Regions from separate parts of the Homo sapiens genome. Here region 2 is linked to region 1. The links come from fine-mapping of genetic effects on gene expression. A gene starts in region 1. The other region holds a variant in brackets. All regions are shown on one strand. Distances are between the middles of the regions.

Evidence for each region. PIP is the estimated chance that this variant, and not a neighbour inherited with it, causes the effect.
Region 2: its variant is fine-mapped to the expression of FNDC1-IT1 in tibial nerve (GTEx, PIP above 0.99).

What each region holds. Positions count from the first base shown.
Region 1 is chr6:159,236,542-159,244,541 of GRCh38, reverse strand. FNDC1-IT1 (FNDC1 intronic transcript 1) reads right to left here and starts at 3,790. Exons shown (of 2, transcript NR_046831.1): 1 at 3,385-3,790; 2 at 1,213-1,356. FNDC1 (fibronectin type III domain containing 1) reads right to left here. Exons shown (of 23, transcript NM_032532.3): 13 at 5,877-5,988; 14 at 4,585-5,025. RefSeq lists a silencer at 6,214-6,398.
Region 2 is chr6:159,430,935-159,444,215 of GRCh38, reverse strand. No RefSeq gene overlaps it. Among named protein-coding and RNA genes, the nearest start is that of LINC02529, 54 kb to the right of the region's middle. The variant A/G (reference allele first, on the strand shown) is at 7,586.

The DNA.
Region 1 (8,000 bases):
CTCCACCCACAAAGGGCAATGGCAACCTCGAGTAGTCTGTCCAGCCCTCCTGGGATCACAGTAAGAAGCCCCCAGCTCCTATTCTGAGGCCCAAGAGATGGCCCTTGAGGCAATGACTCTGGTGTGTTCTGATGCAGCCAATGAATGTTAAGCAGAGAGAAGTTGTAAATTATCCATCCGTTTAGGGGTGGAATGGCCATTTCATGAAAAAGTATTAAACACAAACTTTCCTTTGGTCATTCCAATGTCAATATACCTGGGATCCAAGACAAATTACTTCTGAGCTTATTCAAATCAGTTTTCAGGTTCACACCCTGTAAACTTTGGGATTATCTTGCCATTGTTTCCTGGCCTACCATTTTCTTTCCCTTGTCAATTTAACCTTTAGGAATGTCGTCTTGCTTTTCCTCATTATCAGTTCAGTGTCATTTCTTTTCATTATTGCTTTTCGCCAGATAAAAAATAAATACATTGTAAGGTTTTTGCATCACAGGGTGAACAAGAAAAGGGAAAAGTATATCATTTCCTTCATGGACTCTGGTGTTATGGGTAACTCCTTGAGGTGCTGAAATACTCCAGTGCATGCAGCAGGCCACAGAAATGATGCTTTTACCAGCAAATGAGTTCACTTCCTGAGATGAGTGACAGTTAAGTCCTCTGGCATTAAGTAAACAATCTACTGGGTGATTTTGGTGTTCTTTTTCTTAAGACCAAATAAACATAGGCATAATTTTTCTAAAATAGAACCATCCTGGCTCCAAGTAAAAATAACTTTCAGATGTAATGAAATATATTTACAATTAAAAAAAAAAGTTGACCACCTTACTTTGGCCCACCTGAATGTCATTTTAAACCATTCAGAACTATGTAAAACTGGATATTTTACAAGTCAACTCAGCACCAATGTGAAAAGCTTCAGCCTCTTCACATAAACATAGTTGCCAGCCATCAACCATAGTCGTTTTGTTTATTCTCTTCAGTAGTTTATCAAGTAGACATGAAAAAAATAAGTGAAAAATGTCACCAAAGAAGTAAGGCTTTTGCTCCAGAGATATTACAAAATATTTTTAAAAATTATTCTCAGTAGAAGTTTAGAGACAGAAGGTAAATGACAGCCATTTGAAACTCAGGGATATTTGCACATTGTACAGTTGGTCCAGCTCAAATGAATTTTTGAATTTCTCAGTATTTTCTATCTGGAGACCCAGCTGTGGTGGGGAAGATCTGTTTTCCATAATGACTGATGTTTTTCTGCAACTTTTAACAAGGTCATGCTACAAATTCTTGAAGATGTTCATTTGGCTCATCACATTCCATATATATCATCTATTATCAGATTTGCTGTAGATACAGAACCTGAAAAAAAAAAAGAGCACTGGCTTTTAGGACATGGAAAATGCCTATACCTTAAGGTCTTGCTTGGATATCCAAAGGTACATACTTAGGTACCACAAGGAATTAGAGATGAAGCAGAAGACATTGTCTCAACTGCAAGGAGTTTATTATCCAACAGAGAAGTCAGATCAAGTAGAACAAAACCAAACAAACAAAACAAATGTTCAAGGCAGCATTATTCACAATAACCAAAAAGTGGAAATAACCCAAATGACCACTGACTGATGAATGGAAAAAATGCTGTATATCCATACAATGGAATAAAAAAAATGAAGTACTGATGTATTCTATAATGTGAATGAATCTTGAAAACAATTATGCTAAGTGAAAGAAGCCAGACCCAAAAAGCCACATATGACATGATTCCATTTATACAAAATGTCCCAAATAGGTAAATCCATAGAGAGAGAAAGTATGTTAGTGGTTTCCATGGGTTGGGAGGAGGGAGGAATGAGGGCTGACTGCTAATGAGTACGGAGTTTCTCCTGGGGTGATGAAAATATTATGGAATCTAATAGTGGTGATCATTGCACAACTGTAAATATATTAACATCCACTAACTTTAGAAGAATGAACTTTATGGTATATGAATTTTATCTCAACAGAGCTAGTATTAATACATTTTTAAAATTTAATTTCTTTTTTTAATTTTTATTTTTAAGTTCTGGGGTACAGGTGCAGGATGTGCAGGTTTGTTACACAGGTAAACATGTGCCATGGTGGTTTGCTGGACAGATCAACCCATCACCTAAGTATTAAGCCCTGCATGCATTAGCTATTTTTCCCAATGCTCTCTCTTCCCCTACCTGACCCTCTGACAGGCGCCACTGTATGTTGTTCACCTCCCTGTGTCCATGTGTTCTCATTGTTCAGCTCCCACTTACAAGTGACAACATGCGGTGTTTAGTTTTCTGTTCCTGTGTTAATTTGGTGAGGACAATGGCTTCCAGCTCCATCCATGTCCCTGCAAAGCACATAATCTCATTCCTTTTATGGCTGCATAGTATTCCATGGTGTATATGGACCACATTTTCTTTATCTAGTCTATCGTTGATGGGCATTTGGGTTGACTCCATCTCTTTGCTATTGTGAATAGTGCTGCAATGAACATACATGTGCATGTATCTTTGTAATAGTAAAAATTTAATTTCTTATCACAAAAAAATACCACTTTCATGGTGAGTGCTCTTACTATAAAGAAAGAAAAAAGAAGAATACTAACAATAAAGGAGTGGGAGTGGGAGGGAACTTTGGGAGGTGATGGATGTGTCTGTGGCCTTAGCGGGATGATGATTTTGTGAATGTATTCTTATCCCAAACTCATCGACATGTATGGATTAAATATGCAGAACTTTTTCTATGCATACATCAAGAAAGTGGTTTAAAAAGATTAAAAGATAAAAATAACTATGATTACAGTTAATAAAGAAGAAAATGTTTAATGAAGTTGTTAGTGAAACAGTAGAAATAAGAAAGGGCATATGGAAGTCTTTTTAAACTAACAAATTATAGTGCATTAAAATGCGATATGAGGATGATATGTTACTGTCCCCACATTTAACTTTTCCATAAGACTGTGTATTGATTTGTACTTATTTTCAAATGCTGTCCAGAGGAAAATTATTCTTTAGCTTCGACTAGGGAATCAGGAGACTGGACAGGAGTGAACATATATATGTTATGATTTGCAAAGAAAATAAGAGGCAAAAATGCCAGGAAAAATATTGACTTTCATGCCAAATAAAAGTCCAAAAATATAAAGTAGATGAAGAGAACATGTTGGAAGGCCTAAATAAAAGCAGACAAAATAAAATGTGAAATAATAGCAGCCGTAATTAAAATCAAATCCAAAATAGTCAATTTTTGTTTACGACCAATTACTAATTATGTTTTAATTATATTTCAGTCTTTAAAATTAAACACATTAATGCATGCAGAGGTCAGATGTCAATACTAGAAATTCAAAGGTAAATTCAAATTTATACTCACTGGGTCAATGGACAGAGTAGAAATTTTCTTCCCATTGTTCCTCTCCCTCTGTACGTGTTTCCATGTTTTTTTGGTGTGAATTTTTTAGATGTGTCAAGTTTTCCTGTTTATTTGTAACTTTTTCACGGAAAGACTAACTTCCAACAGAATTCCCATTTTGGATACAGTATTCATGTTCAAACTGATTGGGCTTATCATAGTCAATAACGTTGCATAAGAATTCCAGCTTGATTCCTGAAAGGAAACATCTTCACTCTGCCTTGGTTTAAAAAGACTTAAGCTTTATAATTGACATTGCAATTCATTTCAAACTGAGGGAAAGAAGATGAATCTCTCTCCTCCATGCCTGATGCAAATCTAGAATGACTTCTTCCAAAGCAGCTTGAGCAGGGGACTGAGCAGAAAAGATGGAGATATATTGATATACGGGCTCCACGATGACCTGGATAAAGGTCTCCTAGCTCCTGCTCTTCAGGGAGAACAAGCCATTTTCAGAAGGAAGACAGACTTACATCAGGGGCGGCAGGATAGTGCAGATCAGCAGAGAAGGGAAAATGGTGCATTCTTACCCAGTGGAAAGCCCACACTCCCACAGGAAGCCCAGCTACATGAGGATTGGCATTCTCCAAAGGAGGGCTGATCAAAAAAGTGCTCAGCTGCCGAACATGCTAGGGAAACATTCCTTTTCTTGGAGATTCTCAACAAGACTATTCAGTGATCTAAGTATTACAACAGTAAGAAACTTATCCAACCTTGTTTAAATCACATAGCTAATCACAGAACCTTTTAAGTATATACATATATATTACAACCACTAATCTACAATATCCATTGGAACACACTTTGGGAAATGCTAGTCCAAACAAATAATGTCACAAGTTTCAGCTAAATTCTTGACTTGGGTTGTGATAAGCATCACCAAGTAAACAAAAGATGCCCAGTTAAATCTGACTTTAAGTGAACAGGAAATAATTTTTTTCATATAAATATGTCCCATGTAATATTTTTATTTGCTAAGTCTTCCAACCTTAGCTGTGGCATGGTACTGTCAAACAAACCTGCTGGGACCAAAAATGCATCGGGTTGCTGCTTTGCTGTGCACGGTGCTCATACCTCCCCTGCAGGCTCTGCCACCCTGCTCTGAGTTGCGGCGTGCTAGTGTGCCTGGTAAGTAGTTAGCATTAGAACAAAGGCAGTTACCTTCTTCAGCGTAGCACTCTGGGATCCCATTGGAGCTCATTATCAGGTTGCCATCATCGTCGTGCCGTTCCAAGGTCCCAGGGGGACAGGTGGGGATGGGAGTGGTGGGTGTGGGGGTGGTGGTGGTGGTTGTCCGCGTAGTGGTTCGGACTGTGGTTGTTGGACGCCTGGTGGTCGTGCGGCGGGTGGTGGTCGTGCGGCGGGTGGTGGCAGTGGTGGGCCTCGGGGTTGTAGTGGTAGGCAGGGGCGTCGTAGTAGTGGTGGGCTGCATGGTAGTGGTAGGGGGATGGGTGGTTTTTTTGATGACCTCCAAGCCCACCAGCGGCTTTCCTCCAAGACTCAAAATTGGCTTATCTTGGGCATTGGCCAGAGGTGTGCCATGTCGCCCCTGCCCAAAGAGTGGGAGGCCGTCAGGACTCACCACGGGGGTCCCTTCCAGATCTGAAACAAAATCAACCAATAGCTATGCAACAAGGTGAAGCAATCCAGAGAAAATAAAAAGCAAGCAATAAGTGTCTTCTCAAAGCTTATGTATTATCATGTTTTAATCAGTAAAAGGCAAAGGGATAAATGAATATTGCATCAGTATGCTCCACGATCCTGAGATAACTCTTGTGTCTAGCAAAGGAAGAAATACTTTCCTTTGCCTCATTCCTATGCCTAAGGGGGAAAAGTGTTACTTTGGATTAAAGGTGGAAAACTTCTTCTGTAAAGGGCCAGGAAGCGAATATGTTAAGCCTCATAGGCCGTATGGTCTCTATTGCAGCTACTCAATCCGCTTTTAGAGTGCAAAAAAGAAGATAGACAATACATAAACAACACATAAAAAATGAGTTAGACAGTGCATAATTAAGTGAGTGTATTGTGTTCCAGTAAAACTTTGCGTATGGACACTGAAATGTGCATTTCACGTAATTACCATGCCACAAAATATTCTTTTTTCTGGCAATCATTTAAAAATGTAAAAACTATTCTGAGCTCATGGGTCTTACAAAAATAGGTAGTGGGCTACAACCTACAGGTTGTAGTTTGCGGACCCCTCCTCTGAAAGGGCCAATTTAAGAACAAAGTAAAGGGCCACATTTTCTAGAGGGTGCAGCCTGCAGGAAGAGAACTAACGCTCTCTGGGGGAAACACCAAGTTCTGCCTCTTTTGAGGCTCTTCTTCTCACATGGGTAAAAGTAACTAACCCATGACCATTCATTATAAATGAGGGGGAGAAGGAAGATAGAAGCTGTAATTCTATGGCTAATTCAGTAGGCTTTTATTCTTTAAAAACCATTCTCCCTTACCTACAATGGTTCGACCATCTCCTCCTAGTTTAATCCGAAGAGGATTTCCATGTGAATCTTGGAGGTACCTTCCTTCTGCATTCAATACTAACCCACGATCAAGGTCCACAACCTAAATCCATGACATAGATTAAAGAATATATTGGACATTTTGAAATGATCACATTAGTCCAATTATATATGTATATACCCCTGAAGCTTCCACAGAAGGAAACCGTAATGTGAGTAGAAGACATTCTTTTTGTCAATATCATTCATAAAGTCTTAAAAAGTAAAGTACAGGCCGGGCGCGGTGGCTCACGCTTGTAATCCCAGCACTTTGGGAGGCCGAAGCGGGCAGATCACGAGATCAGGAGATCGAGACCACGGTGAAACCCCGTCTCTACTAAAAATACAAAAAAATAGCCAGGCGCGGTGGCGGGCGCTTGTAGTCCCAGCTACTCAGGAGGCTGAGGCAGGAGAATGGCGTGAACCCAGGAGGCAGAGCCTGCAGTGAGCCGAGATCGCGCCACTGCACTCCAGCCTGTGTGACAGGGCAAGACTCCGTCTCAAAAAAAAAAAAAAAAAAGTACAAAACAGTCATCTTTCATATTATAATTGCTTACCCATATAACATGTAAATTGTTTTAAGTTTCTCAAATCACAAAAGATGTTCAAAATATTTTTACCATTAAGTACATTGTGTCTAATGCTGGAAAGAAGGAAACAATGTGTCTCTCAGTTGAGGGAAGAGATTAAATAATTTGTGGCCCATCCATGTGGTAGAATATTATGCAGACAATTCTACATACGTTCTACGTATATGTGAACTCAGATTACAGGGCTGGTTATTTTGCAAAAATAAAGATATATCCATTTGCATATATAAGCTTAAAACTGCAGAGAAAAAAATTATGGAAGGTTATACCGCAAATGGTTAACAGTGGTTATCTTTGAGAAGTAGTTTGGGTGAAGAATGTTTATTTTCTGTTTCATATATTTCAATATGAATTGTTTTAACTTCTTGCAATGAATGTGAATTGCTAGCATATTAAAGACATAAAATCTTTCCATTTTGCTGTTAATGTTAAAAATCAAAGTTGCTGTAACAAAAACAATATAATTTGTAATCACGTTGCCTAATATAGTATGCATGCAGAAAACGTCACATTCTAAGGAACTGTAAAACTTGAAGAAAGCTATAATTATCTCTATTAAGGAACAAGCTCGTGCTCTTTGCTGGTGGTTCTCAAAGCATGGTCCTGGACCTGAAGCCTCAGCATCACATAGGAACTTGTCAGATACTCAAATCACCCAGCCCTACCCGAGACTTGTATTTGACAAAATCCTCAGTGATCCTGAGCTGGCTTAAGTTTGAGAACCACTGCTTTAGACACTCAGGCTACTGGAGGAAGCCCTGCAAGCAAGCCACTTTGGTGGGTATTGTTTTGGCATTAAAATAAAATTTATATAAACTCTATTTTGAAATCTACCCCATGCTGTTTCCATTCAAAATTGTTTGCAATAGCATTTTGCTTTAATGTGCATTCTTCCTACTATAAATTTCTCTTCCTTTAAGAAATGATAACATGCATCTTTAGATCACCTATGACTGAAAATGTCATAGTCTTTTAGTACATTTCCCTAAACCTTATCATTATAAATGGGAAGTTTTGGTTGGGAATTACAGTATAAATAATTTTTTTATTCTTAGAAAAAGTACTTTAAATTCCTGAATATTGTAAAGTGTTCTGTTACCCTCAACCCACCAAAACCTCCTAAACATTTATCTTAACCCCAAGCAATTAAAGCTGTTTAGACATACATGAAATACTAATACATAATTTTAGTCCAACACTTGTTGGAAGATTCAAAAGATGATCTAATAAAAATTTCCAGTATCATTCAGGGTTTTTTGTTTGTTTATTTTTACCCTGTGTCCTTTGAGAAAGGATTTGAGATGACTTACAGAAAATATGTGTAATGTTTAATCAAACAATAAACAAAACCTAAAAATAAAATGAAGCTACCAGGACAGGGAAAATATAAGTTCCTTTGAACGGCCATCCATTGGGTCTATAATTGCTATGGTTGGGCCATGCATTCATTTGACCTTCCTAACCAGTCAAGGCAAATGAAAAACGA
Region 2 (13,281 bases), 200 kb before region 1:
CAGGAGGGGCCACTGACTTTGGTGCTAGAAAATACCCTAGGAAGAATATTCTATACTCTGGCTCAAGCTGCTTTCAGTACAAGGGAAGCCCTTTATCCAATTCTAAAACTTTGAGGAAGAGACCCAGTACCCACAGGGTCCGAAGTTGCATGAAGAAATACCTTCCTGTGTTACCCGTAAGAGAGTACATTTCTATTTTGAGGATAACCCAGGATAGAAAGGGGCAGATAAAACCTAGAGGGTGAGTGAAGAGAAAGGGAATTAGGGGAGAAGGAGGAAGGTGACAGAGCAGCATGGAAAGAATGAAAGGCACATTGGAGAAAATGCATTTTCTCAGGTCAATCACACACAAGAAAATACTGGCTCCTAGTTTATTCTTTTAGGAATAAAATATCAAATTAGGATTCGTTCAGGTGAGAGGCATGTTTGTGCAGCTACGGCAGTAGCAGGTTGCCCTTATAGGAATCCGATTCAGAGCTCAAGAATGATTCACCCTATGCCTAGCTTCCTTCCCAGGATCCCCTCCCTTAAACACAGCCGGAGCTGTGTAATTAGACCTGGAAAGCTTCGGCAAAGCCAGATTCCTCATATAAAGTATCCCCACCCCTCCTTGCAAATGATGGAGCCCTTTGGCAAAAGCCATCAGCATCAGATAAGATCTTCAAACCCCAGTGGCTATGAAGTCTCGTCACACCTCCCAGCCTGGTTTCTAACATCTGGTGGGGCTTATTATTTATTTACGGTATTTTTGGCTGCAGCACGAAGATCAGCCCCTCAGACACCTCTGCAAGTGACACCTCTGCAAGTGACACGGCTCCTGAACCTCCCAGTATGATTTACCACCTACAAAAACCTCTGAAAACACAGTGTGTGCACACACATAAACAGAAAAAAAAAATCAAGTCCAAAAATTGTAAATGAAACAAGAAATGACTGGTTGCTAAATGGCAAGCTTTTAGATATTCTTTGGTTTCCACATAAAAATGTATATTTCTGTCCTTGCTGCTAGGCTGTGGGCTTCCGGAGTGAAATACCTTGGTATTTTAGTGCCTCTGGAGTAGCTCTATGCATGGCTCATGGGAGGCCCTCAGTAATGGATGGGGGATAAATAGCAAGCTGGAGGTGAGTCTTGGGTTCACCTTGGCAAAGTAGCGGGCAGGTTGAGGAAAGCAGCCAGGCTTTCAAGGACAAGCAGGCTTATCCAAGGGCAGAAAAATGTCACATGCTGGGGCCCCATGGTGGACTGCAGGGAGTTAACACCTCCTGGAGTTGTTTGAGAATTAAAATAAATGATAGACCCATCTCAGATCAGGTCTGAGAAGGATGGAGGAGGCACCGAGCCATGGCCTTGCTGAGATGCATGAGTGTCAACGTCTCTTTGCTGTCGTCAATGACAGGATCTAGGCTCAGCAGGGTGAGCACCCTGGGAACTTTGCCCTCCCTGGGACTGGCTCCTACCACCTGACACTGTCAAAGCACAGTGGGTTCCTCCTGGGTTTCCTTGTGTTTGGCTTTTTGGCATCTGCCATTGATAGAAGGAGCACGCATCCCCATCTGTCTGTGCCTGCTGTCTACCCCTCTCCTCTGTTTCTGGCTGAGTTTCCAGCTTATGAGGTAGAGATGGTATGTTTTTTTCTTAAAAAACATCATGTTACATTTTAAAAACTTATGAATTTAGCAACTACCTAGTTTAAAGGTTTATTTCTAAGGTCTTTGAGTAGCGCAGTCTAACACATTGCCAAGAAAAAGAAGGTACTTCATAGACTCAGACTAATTGGCAATCTTTATGCTTCCTGCATTGAAAGTTCTTGTCCTCCAGAGGGGATTGAGCCTGATCTAACTTGTCTGCATCGAGTCCTTCTCTCAGGAGACTACATCTCTGGGAAGGCAGGGGCCGTGCCTGACTCACTTGTGTATTCCCCTGGTTTAACTTAGTGCCGGCTCAAAGAGGACACCAAGCTGGTCAAAGAGGTCATGTTCAGCCCTGAGTTGTAGTCTGGGATTCAGGCCGCCTTTGGAAGACGTTCCAAAGATCTCAGAAGGCCCTTGGGGGTGTTGGCATTGCATAACAGGCATGGGTTTGGATTCTGTGGAGGTTGTTTCCCAAGATGGCTGCTACAATCCTGGCCAGTCCCGATGCCCTTTTGACATGTGACTTTGTCTCTACTCCTATCCACAGGTAGAGTTCATTGCCCTTCCCCTCCAGACTGGGCTGGCTGGAGAAACCATGTCAAGAAAGAGGGACCCTAAGAATGAGCCTCCACAAGCAAAGAGAAGCCTTGGAAGATGAAAGACCATGAGTAGAGAGAGGCTCTGCGGAGGGCAGACATCTGAGAGAGGCCATCTGGGGTCTTCCAGAGGAGAGAACACGTGCAACATGCATGAAACTGGGCTGAGCATCCTCGCCGAGCCCTGCCCAGCCAACCCACAGAACTGCAAGTAAATGGGGCGGGTTTCACTTTAAGCCACCAAGTATTGGGCGAGTTTATTACACTGCAATAGGTCACAGATACAAACCAACCTAAATTCAAACTCCATTTCTACACCTACTAATACTGTGATGGTGAATACATTTTTTTTAGCCTCTCGCCTCATATGCAAAATGAGAATAATAATGCCCACCTAATAGAATTAGAACCTTGCCAGCCACAGCTCCCACTTGTAGAAACTTGCCAGCCACACCTCCCACTTGGAATTGCCCATAGCCCAGTTGCAGGGCTGGTCTTAGGTGGTGGAGAATATATTAAGTAGTTTTATCTCCCTACTCTTCCTTAGCTGAGGGGACCAGAAGTAGCTGCCTGACCCCAATGGCTCATGTGAGCGTGTTTAACTCACTCTTGAGATTATAAATGAAGAAGCCCAGAAATTGAAGTCAGGTAGTTGAGCCTTGGATTTTTCAGATCATGTAGAGCCGAGGCCAGTGTCAGAACCCCAATGAGCCAAAGTCACACGGGAACGGAAGCTAAGAGGGAGTTGGAACTCTGAGTGGACATCAAGGGGGTCCATAGAGCAGGTGTGCAGAGAGAAGCCTAGAGAGGCTGCCTGACTGCAGCCAGAGACTGGGAATGGAGAGAGTGTCCCAACTCAATTTCCTGCCTTTGGTTCTGAGAGATTCCCTTGTGCCCCATTTGCTCAAGCCTGTGTGCGTAGGAGTGGGTTGCTTCCTGCCAAGTCATCCCTAATGAAATGTGAAAATGCAAATGCCAGACACAAAGTGGATGTGCAGTTCTTCAAGGTACAGTAGTGTTTTGTTTTGTTTTTTAAGTAATGGATGAACGGAACATTTATCTACTTTTCTCTCAAAATCTATATTCTTTTTTCTCCATAGGTTTGATAACATTAACCTGATGCCTAGGGTCTCAGAAGAAACCAGTTTTGGGGGTCAGTGGGACTCAGAAACTAACCTCTTTCTAAACTTCACACACAAGCAAAAGGTGTTTTTCCCTTGGAGGCCAGAGCTCCGAGGAGTGGGGATGGGAGTTGTGGCCGCCTCTGCCATGAATGTACCCCTGCACTGCCCACTGGTGTTGGGGAAATCTAAGGTCCATACATAAGAAGCTTTGGTTCCTTGATGTTTTCTGTGAATGGATTACCCAGAATAGGATTTTTCCAGATTTGCAGGCTCAAATGAGACGCCTTACAGGTTGGCTTCAGAGCAAGAGTTCTCTGGAAAAGAAGGAATCATAATCCTTTGATAATATTTTCCTAACAGCCACTAGAGGAAGTTTTCAGAGAGTAATAAATCGTGCGTTCTCATTTATATAAAACCTTTTACTCCTAGCTTGGAACACTATCTCAACTTTTTACTAACTAGCAATTTTACTAACAAATTGACTAAATCATTTAGCTTCTCAGCCTCAGCTTTCTTATCCATAAAATCAAGATAGCAGTAGTTAACACCTCCTGGAGTTGTTTGAGACTTCAAATAAATGATATACCTAAGGCACTTTGAAGACTGCCTGGTGGGTAGCTCGCTGAGCCCAGGCCTCAGTGGGTGTTTGATGAATGCCTGCTTTCATTATTTCTGCACCAGTGCGATTTATCTGCCTCTCTTCTTGACGTTTGCTCCATTCCCCAGACCCAACATTCATCTCTTTCTTGGACTAAAGTTCAGTTTTACCTAGCCTCAAAAGTCAATTCTGCTTTCAAGTCCAGCCATAGATCCTGGGTTCTGTGACCCCAGGCAGTACCCTGCAGGGTCAGCTCCCCTATTGACCCCTCAGGGATACTGAGGCAGCCCCTCCCATCTGGCTCAACTCGGCTTTGAAGTTGAGACCCTGACACCCCTCAGCAGGCACTGTCCTTTGAGTTATCCTTCCAGGGGAGATGGTTGGCTATGCACAGTCATTCATTTCTTGCCAAAATCTTTTAAATTGTTTCTGGCCTGGGTTAAGGGGAAAAAGAAGTGAATGTGCTGGAAAAGAACCTTTTTTCATGCTCTGTATGAGTTCATTAGCTCTGTTCTTAAATCAAGTGAGATATCCAGTAAAGAAGGTCTTAGATAAAACATGAGGTGGTGAATCCTGCCTCCTGGGCCCCCTCCCTGGGACTTTCTCTGTAGCACACATGCCTCTTGGTGCCATACCAGTTTCCTAATATTTTTACACTCTCTGCTTCTTTTCCTCGATCAAAATGTTCTCAAGGAAGGCTTTTAGGGATTCATGTCTACTCAGTGGTAAAGGACCATTACTAACGTTACAGTAGTTAGTATTGCAATAGCGGATAAAGCTTAAAGTCAAAGGAATTAATCTTTAATTGTGAGAGTTTGAACATCGATGCCAAACTGATGTTGGATTGAGGGGAGGGTGGGGTGAGGGTGACAGAGTCTCACCATTAGTGAGATAATTAGTGCCTCATTTCTCATCATGGATGTTGACCACTGACTCTGCTCCTGGAGAAGCCTGCTTCAGAACTAACCAGCAAACACCAAGGGCCTACACTGTGCTCAGCCCACTGAAATGTGGCATGGGGTGAAGTTTGTGAGCTCCAACCTGCTAGCATTTCTTCTTTACGGTAAGCCACAGTTATTCATTTAACCTCATTTCATGCTGAATTTTAAGAGAATTAATTTTAAACAACTACACATACTGTTTTCAGGACACTCCTGTTCGGATAGGGTCATACTTGATCCCCTGTTTCCCCAAAGCTTTGACTTGGTATCTGATATGGTTTGGATTTGTGTCCCTGCCCAAGTCTCATGTTAAAGTGTAATCCCCAGTGTTGGAGGAGGGGCCTGATGGGAGGTGATTGGATCATGGAGGCAGAGTTCCTTCTTGCTGTTCTCATGATAGTGAGTGAGTTCTCAAGAGATCTAGTTGTTTAAATGTGTGTAGCACTTCCCCCTTAGCTCTCTTTCTTCTGCTCCAGCCATGTAAGATGTGCTGCTTCCCTTCTGCCATTACTGAAAGTTTCCCAAGGCCTCCCCAGTCATGCTTCCTGTACAGCCTGCAGAATCGTGAGCCAATTTGACCTCTTTTCTTTATAAATTACCCAGTTTCAGGTATTTCTTTACAGTAGTATGAGAACAGACTAATACAATATCTGATGCACAGGCTCCTGTCATAGCCTTTGTGACCCCACCATGGGTTACCACTAGGGTCAGCCTTGCCCCCAGCCTCTGAGGCTGGTTCTGTCTCCCAAGGGGGGATTTCATGATGTTAACTCAGGACCGCTTTCAGCTTCCTACTCTGAGCACAGAGCGACTGTGCTCTGCTGGGTCTTTGTGACTCAATCTCTGCAGGAATCCTTGTCATGTTCCCTTGAGCATGTTCCTGCCTGGCCTCTGGGAGCCCCTGTCCCTACCAGCTGGCACTTTCTATTGCCAGGTGCTCAGGATGCTGTCCTGTTTGCCGACATCTCCTTTGCATTTCCTCTCACCATGTGTCTGTCTGGTCTCTGAGCCCCAGCCACCTCTGCAGTGATTTATGTGAAAGTTGAGAGCACAACCTGCATCAGCCTGATCCTGCACACCCAGCTGGAAAGAACCTGTGTGTCGGTTGAGTTCCCTCCACCATTCTGTCCTATTGATACCACCCAGCCCCAGTGATGGCTGACAGCATTTGCAAAATAAGAAATTGCTGGCTGGTGAATAGTTTAGGAGACCTATTACAAATGAACAGAATCAAAGTAATTAAGATATAAGTATCTTGTCCATGAGAGATGTAAGAAATTAGTCTTCTGTATCTTTGCATCTAGTTTTTGCATGTCAATCAGTCATACTTTTTTATGTTCATTAAAAAACTTGGTCCATGTGGGAAGATTCAATTAATGTTTTTGAGTCATTCATACTTGGATTTGAATAAAGAAGTTGGAAGAGTCCTTAATATCTGGAAAATATTCAAATGTTTCCCTAAAGTTTTCAAAACTATTTTGCTCATGGATTGGGAGCTCACTCACAAATGGACCTCGGTGTTCACTTCCCATTGGTCTGCCTCCGCTAGTAGAGAAAATCGGGCTTGTGTGGCAGTAATTTGGCAAGTCAAGTCCTTCATTCTCACTTCCATGTTTGAAACATGGCTTCTCAGTTGTGCTGTGACTAAGACCCAGTTTGGGGAGTTTAATGGATTCTGGGCTTCATAGACAGGAATCCAATTCATCATTGAAAAGATGAAGTATACAATTGGGATGGATCAGGGAGAGAACTTTGATTACGTTCTATTTGAAATGTTTTTTTTTGTTTGTTTTTTGCTAAACTTGTTAAATAATAACCCTGCTGTTCCAGAGGAAGTGATACTTTACAAAAAGAAGATTCATCTCAAAAAAGTCAAATATAATTATACTTGAGGATTTGAAATTTCCTGATGGAAACAAATCTGTAGAGTAATTTTGGGAAATATGTGCATTTCTAGCTATAACCAGTGTTCCACTGGGTCTCTTAATGCAGGGGTCAAGACATCTGCAAAGTGTCTTCAGATAAGTCCTGGGATGGGTCTCCAGGGGGCTCTTGAGCAAGTCCACCCTGCACTGTGTGGCCCCAACATTTTCTCCCTCTTTTGCTCGGCAGTGGGGGCTCCCCTCCTGTGAAGCTCTCCAAGATGCCCTGCACTGATTCGGGTGCTCCGCAGCGAAGCCCCTTTTGCCAGGTGCCCCTGCCACTGCCCGGCTCCCCAGCTGCTTGGCTGCCATCTGCCTCCATTCCTGCTGCGGAGGCCTGGAATGCCCGGGATACTAGGGCCACTCTGCCTTCCATGCTGAAGAAGGAAGATGTCTCTGGTCCCTTTTGTCCCCAATATTTTACACATACAGAAGAATGTAAAGAATTATACGGTGGTTCACATAGCCACATCTAGATACATCGCAGCTGTTGGCCGTCAGCTCTCTTTCCTTTCCACATATCTGTGCAGCTACCCATCCATCCAGCTTATTGTTTTTAGACTTTTCAAAGTCAGCTGCAAACATCAGTGCCTTTGTTCCCACACATGTCATTAACTGGAGTCCAATATTTGTTGATGTTCTTTTGTGTTCCGTCAGCTGTACTGCCTTGAATGTTGATGTTTGGAGTTTTAAGAGAAAGAAGCTCATTCAGCTTCAACCATAACCCCTAAACCCCCGTTCCCACCTCCGTCTCTCCTCAGGAATCAGATGG[A/G]GGTGGTTCTGGGCCAGAGACAAATCTAAGGGAAAGAATTGCTGTTTCTCCTGCACGGCAGAGGAGCGGCTGCTGGGTAAGCAGCCCTTTCTGGCTGTCTCTCTCCAGGTGAGGTGAATCATCTCTCTGGAGGCTCCCTGAGCTCTCAGGTAAGCAGATTCTGAGCCCCTTCCCCACCGGCTTCAGACTCGAGGGTTCCCAGTGTCGCTGCAGCAGCTGCTCCTGCTGAGGTGTGCAGGGGAAGGGTTTTGAGAGGCTTCTCATCTGCAGAGCTGGTGTTAACAGGCAGACAAGCATTGCTCAGGATAATGCACAGGGGCTGGAATGGGAAGTGTCTGGCACTCAGAGGTGACCTGGAGGCCTTGAGGTGCACAGTTTGTCATCATCGTAATCAGAGCTGAGATGCACCAAGCACCTCCCAGCGCCAGACCCGGGCTGAGAGCTCACTGCGTGTGCCTAGCGTGCTCTTCATACCATCCTCGCTCTATCATTATCCCCTTTGCACAGATAAGACCTGTTGGTGACCATGATCTTGGCAGCTGTGATAAGAATATGTATAAACCCAGCCAGAGGAGCTGGTTAGGACAGATTTTTCTGGCAGAAAGTGGGGTTGGTGGTGTAAATTGTAGGTTTTCAGGTGCGGTGAAGCCAACAGATGAGACGATTGCCATTGTCACTCAGTTCCCGAGAGGAGGGTCACACTATGATGCTCAGGGCCCCATGCGGAAGCACCAGGGTTGGGCAGGTGGCAGAGAAGCTAGAGGAAACACAGGCAAGAGCCTCGGCCGAGGTTTCCGAGGGAAGAAACTGGGGAGATAGGATGAGCAGGCTTAGGACCGGCTAGTGTGAATAATTTCTGTTGGGTCTGGGGCATAGGGGCTGTTTCCAGTTGTCTGGCACCTGGCCCTGGGGTGATTACGGCAGGGGAATAGAGGCCCAGCATGGCAGAGCCTGCTAGAGGAGACAGGGTCTGCATGTGGGCTCTGGACTGTGTGGTTTGCACATGAAGGGCACACTCATGGGGGAGTCATTTGCTGTCTCTAGGACTTGACTAGCCCTGGGGGGAGCAGTCCCTCCAGTGTCAGTGAGGATCTAGGTGTCAAAATTTCAGAAACACGTGGTTAATACTGTGGGATGGGGCAGGAAGCACCTATCAGGTATATTTGAACATCTTCTCGCAGCCATGCAACCTTCAGCACCCTACGGCACCCACGTGGTTCCTCGTGAACTGTTAATCAGCACATTTCTGGCCATTTGGAGAATCTAAATGTGGAGTCCTTGAATGATACTCCAGAGCTTCATGGGGCCCAAGTGAGACTGTAAGGTCCTTCTTATGGCTCCCAGGGAAGTGGCCACTTTCCACTGCCTTTGGACTAGCCACCAGAGTCACTGTTGCTCTGCCCCTTGGCTTGCCTTGAAACGCTCTCTGAGATACTCGCACTTCTGGTGAGAAGGTGAGTGTGGTGTCCAGGTGCTCACTGTGAAGATGGGCAGGCATTATTTGGAAGAAGTGGAAGAAATGGGAACTTGGAAGTGACTGGGGAGGCCAGAAGAGGGGAGAGGGAAGGGGGTCCCAGGGTGGGAAGTCACTGTTGACAGCTTGAGGGTTCTGTGTCCATTCCAGTGCAACAGGGTGTGTGGGAGCGCCTCTCTTGTGACATTGAACAGGGAACGGGAGAGCATGGACTTGTTCTCTAGGCCTCTGCATTTCTTTGTCCTCTGCAGATAGGGCACAAGCTGTGTTGGCAAAAGCTGGTAAAACACTGCTAACAGGCAGAGAAACCATACATTCAACAATAAGTATATCTAGCAAGGCATTAAAAAATGGAGAGTAGGTTTTTGTGACTAAAAAAGTCTACCTAATGTTAAAATAATAGGCGGTGTTAGTCAAACTGGTAAAAAGAAAAATGAAGCAATCAGGCAAGTCTGCTGCTTGAATTCATACAGACCCAACAATTGACCATTGTTTGAACACTCAATGTCTTAGCTGTTCCTTGTTAAACACACTGTTGGCACAGCAAGCATTTGAGAGAAGAAAGCTTCAGTAATCTAGAGCCACCGCCAAACAGTAGAGCAGTAGAGCAGATTCCTAGGATGATTGAGCATGGGGCTGTTGACAGGCAGGCTGTGGGTGTTGGCGGGTAGAGGGAGGCATAGGCTGAGTGTCTTTCCACGCATTTAACACCCCAGCTCCAGTCTTGGCAGCTACTGTTCCATGAGCAGAATGGAGTTCAATGAAACTGCTTTTGCAAAGACTATGACAGTGAGAAAAATCTGACATAGAAAAATTATGACAATGAAAGAAATCCGACCTGACTCCACCTTGCTTCTAACCTCCAAGCTGTCCTTGTTTGTTTCTGGGCATAGGCCAAGCCAACTGTGGGAGGAATTTAGTTTAACTTTAAAGCAAAGATGATAACAGTCTCTTCTTGAAACTAACTACGTCCTGGCTCAGGGACCAAATATGTCTTTGCAAGACTAACAAATTAGCCACAAGATTAGAATTATGGTTCAGGAGCCTTGTAGCCAGAGGTCACAAGCTTTGTAACTTCCCCATTTGCTCCTATAGGTGACATCACCATTGCAAAATCTAAGATTGGTACTTGAGGTATTTTTCAGACTGCATTCCAATGAACAAGCTGGTGCCACCTGGACTGGTACCCCATACCATGAAACTGGCTCATCTGACCTTGCAATCCCACCCAGGAACTGACAGAGTGTAAGAAGACAGCTATGATTTTATCCCTAACCCAACCAATCAGCATTCCCCATTCCCTAGTCCCCTGCCTTGAGAAACCCTAGCCTCTGAATTCTCAGGGAGACTGATTTGAGTCATAAACTCCCATTTGCCACTTGGCTAGTCCTGTGATAATTAAACTCTTTCTCTACTGTAATACTGCTGTCTCAGAAGATTGGTTTTATCTGTGCAGCAGGCAGGATGAACCCATTGGGCAATTATAATAAAGCAAATGCCAAGGGGCAATTGGCCGCCATCAGTACCATCAGTATGGGCTTATCGGAAGCTGACAGTCACGAAGAGTGAGAGGGTAGGGGGATTTCATTTTAATAAGTTTTCGGATACACTTACTGTATTTAGAAAACAAAGAAAAGTTCACAGCAGGAATACTGTAATTACACTATCTGCCATTCTTGGGGGGATGCAAGGAAATCTTTAAAACAGCAATGCCACAGACACACAGCAGTTTTTTACCTTTTAAATATGAATTTATAATAATAAATCTCATATTTATTTTGGTACATATTTCTCCCAATTAAAAACAATATATAAAGCCTGATCCTAATTAGGAGTAAGTCAATGTCACTTTGACAAAACCACAAAAATATTGATTTATTGACTATTTTTAAAGAAATAAGCCTTATTCTGTACACATTTTATCTGTATTTACTGAATTCTTACTTGAATTTAAAACTTTTATAACAGAATGCAGACAAGAAATAACTTTTGTAATCTCAAAAGTGTTTAATGAACAGATTCTCAGAAATATTTATAATTAGCACCTTTTCTCTTCAGCAACATTAAAGCTAGTTGTTCATCCCCTTAAAATAGTTCCTTGATCCCCCACCTTTGTTAATACCATTAATCGGTTTATAACCAGCACAAAGAAAACTCAGCCTAATGCATCAAGATGGATTCTCCATTGGCAGATCTAAGTTAATGATGTGTAACTTAATGTTTTCTTTTTAAAAAATCAAACACTGTTGTGTTTAGTTTTGGTTGTAAATATAAGTTCTTGGCAAAATCTGTCATATGATAAAGTAGTTTTAGAAATCTGTATTAAAAAATTAAAGTAGGTAGAATACAGTGACCTCATCCCTCTGCACCTGTGCTTTGGTCCCCATTCACATAGAAGGAGGGATTGTTCTCTGCCATCTACACCCCTCTTCTCCCATCTATAACAGCCTGGATTACTTTGATATATTTTTTAAAAATTTTTAAAAAGATGGGGTCTCAGTATATTGCCCAGGCTAGTCCTGAACTCCTGGGCTCAAGCGATCCTCCTGCCTCAGCCTCCCAAAATGCTGGGATTACAGGTGTGAGCCACCATGCCCAATCAACCAGGCTTACTTTGGGATATTGTTTTTGGGCTTTTAGCTTAGGGCCACGTTTTGATTGGATTAAGCCCATTAGCATATGTGAAAGATTATATTTTCCAAGGATGACTGTTCTTCTAGAAGTTTCTTCTAGAATCTTGCCCCTCTTCCATCAAGAGATAGAGTCTATGTACCCTACCTTTGAATATGGGTGGGTTTTTGTGACTGTTTCAACCAATAGAGTAGGGCAGAAGAGACATTATGTGATTTCTGAGTTTAGACCACAGAAATGCCAAAAACTTACACCTTATTCTCCTGGGACACTGTATGCAAGCAGTCTCATGGCCCGGAGGCCTCCATATTGTGGGGAAGCCCAAACTGGCACAATTGGAGAGACCACATAGAGAGGCCTCAAGACTGCCTTAAGGAAAAAAAGATGGCCAGGTAGCTCCTAGCACCATCGACTCCTCTTCCCCACCACTGTTCTAGCCCCAACCACCATCTGACTGCAAATCCATGAGGGGCCCCAGGAAAAGTCACCTAGCTGAGCTTACTCAAATTCCTAACCCACAGAAACCATGGGAGATAAGTGATTTGTTATGTTGCAATAGATAACCAGAACAGCATGTCTCATCTCTGTGGCCACAGTGATTGTTGCAGGATAGACACATGACCTAATCCAGTCTAAATCAGTGCAAGTCTTAATATGTTTGCAAGGCATGCTAGACTATAGACATTCTCCTCTCCTCTGGGCTCAGTAAGGTGCTGTAGCCAACTGACTACAGTAAGGGGAGACAGCCTGAGAACCACTCTGGCACACAAAAGAAGAACAGAAAGGGATCATGATGACATCATTGATCCTTGAATCAAATCTTACCCGAAGCTACCATTTGACTTACTCAACACCCATGAAGCATCATTTATAGTCAAAAATGTTCAGAGTCTCAAGTCACTATACAGATACAGAATTCAATCTCTTGTTTGATACCCAAATCTTTCCTATTTTATTCCTATTTATTTCCTATTTTATTCCAGCCAGATGTTTTCAACCTTCAATGACAGACCTCACCACCTGAAGCAGGTGTATTCCAGCCCCAAGCAGCTTTGTTAAGCCAAAATCTGTCTCTCTGCAATAGTTGTCATGAGGTAGAGTGGAAAATATCTAAGAATGCTATGCATAAGAAGAGTATCTAGGTTTCAGCAAGTTTCTTAAAAAATTGCCTGATATTCAAATTGCCAAGATGGAGAAATATGGGCTGAATTTCATTTTAATCTGCTGAATTGACAATTGGTTGAATGCTTTAAAGCTAAAGAGCATTGATTCATTGATCAACCTAAATCAGCATCAGATAGGAGGAGCTGCTAGTCTTTGGTCTCCTGCTCCTGTCCATATGGAAACCAGAGACTTGGATAGGCCTTTGAGATCATGATAAATAAACCCATGAGTGGCACGAGGCTGGGAGGGACAACTATTAACGTTGGATGAGAAATTGAGCTTCCAGAATACTTTGATGCACTTTGCTAAACATTTACTGAATTAGACAAGATAAAATTTAAAAGAGATAAATATAAAATCCTGCTCTTTAGTCTTCTAACACTCAAGTGTATACATATGAGATAAGTCGAAAGTGACTGAGTTCAGA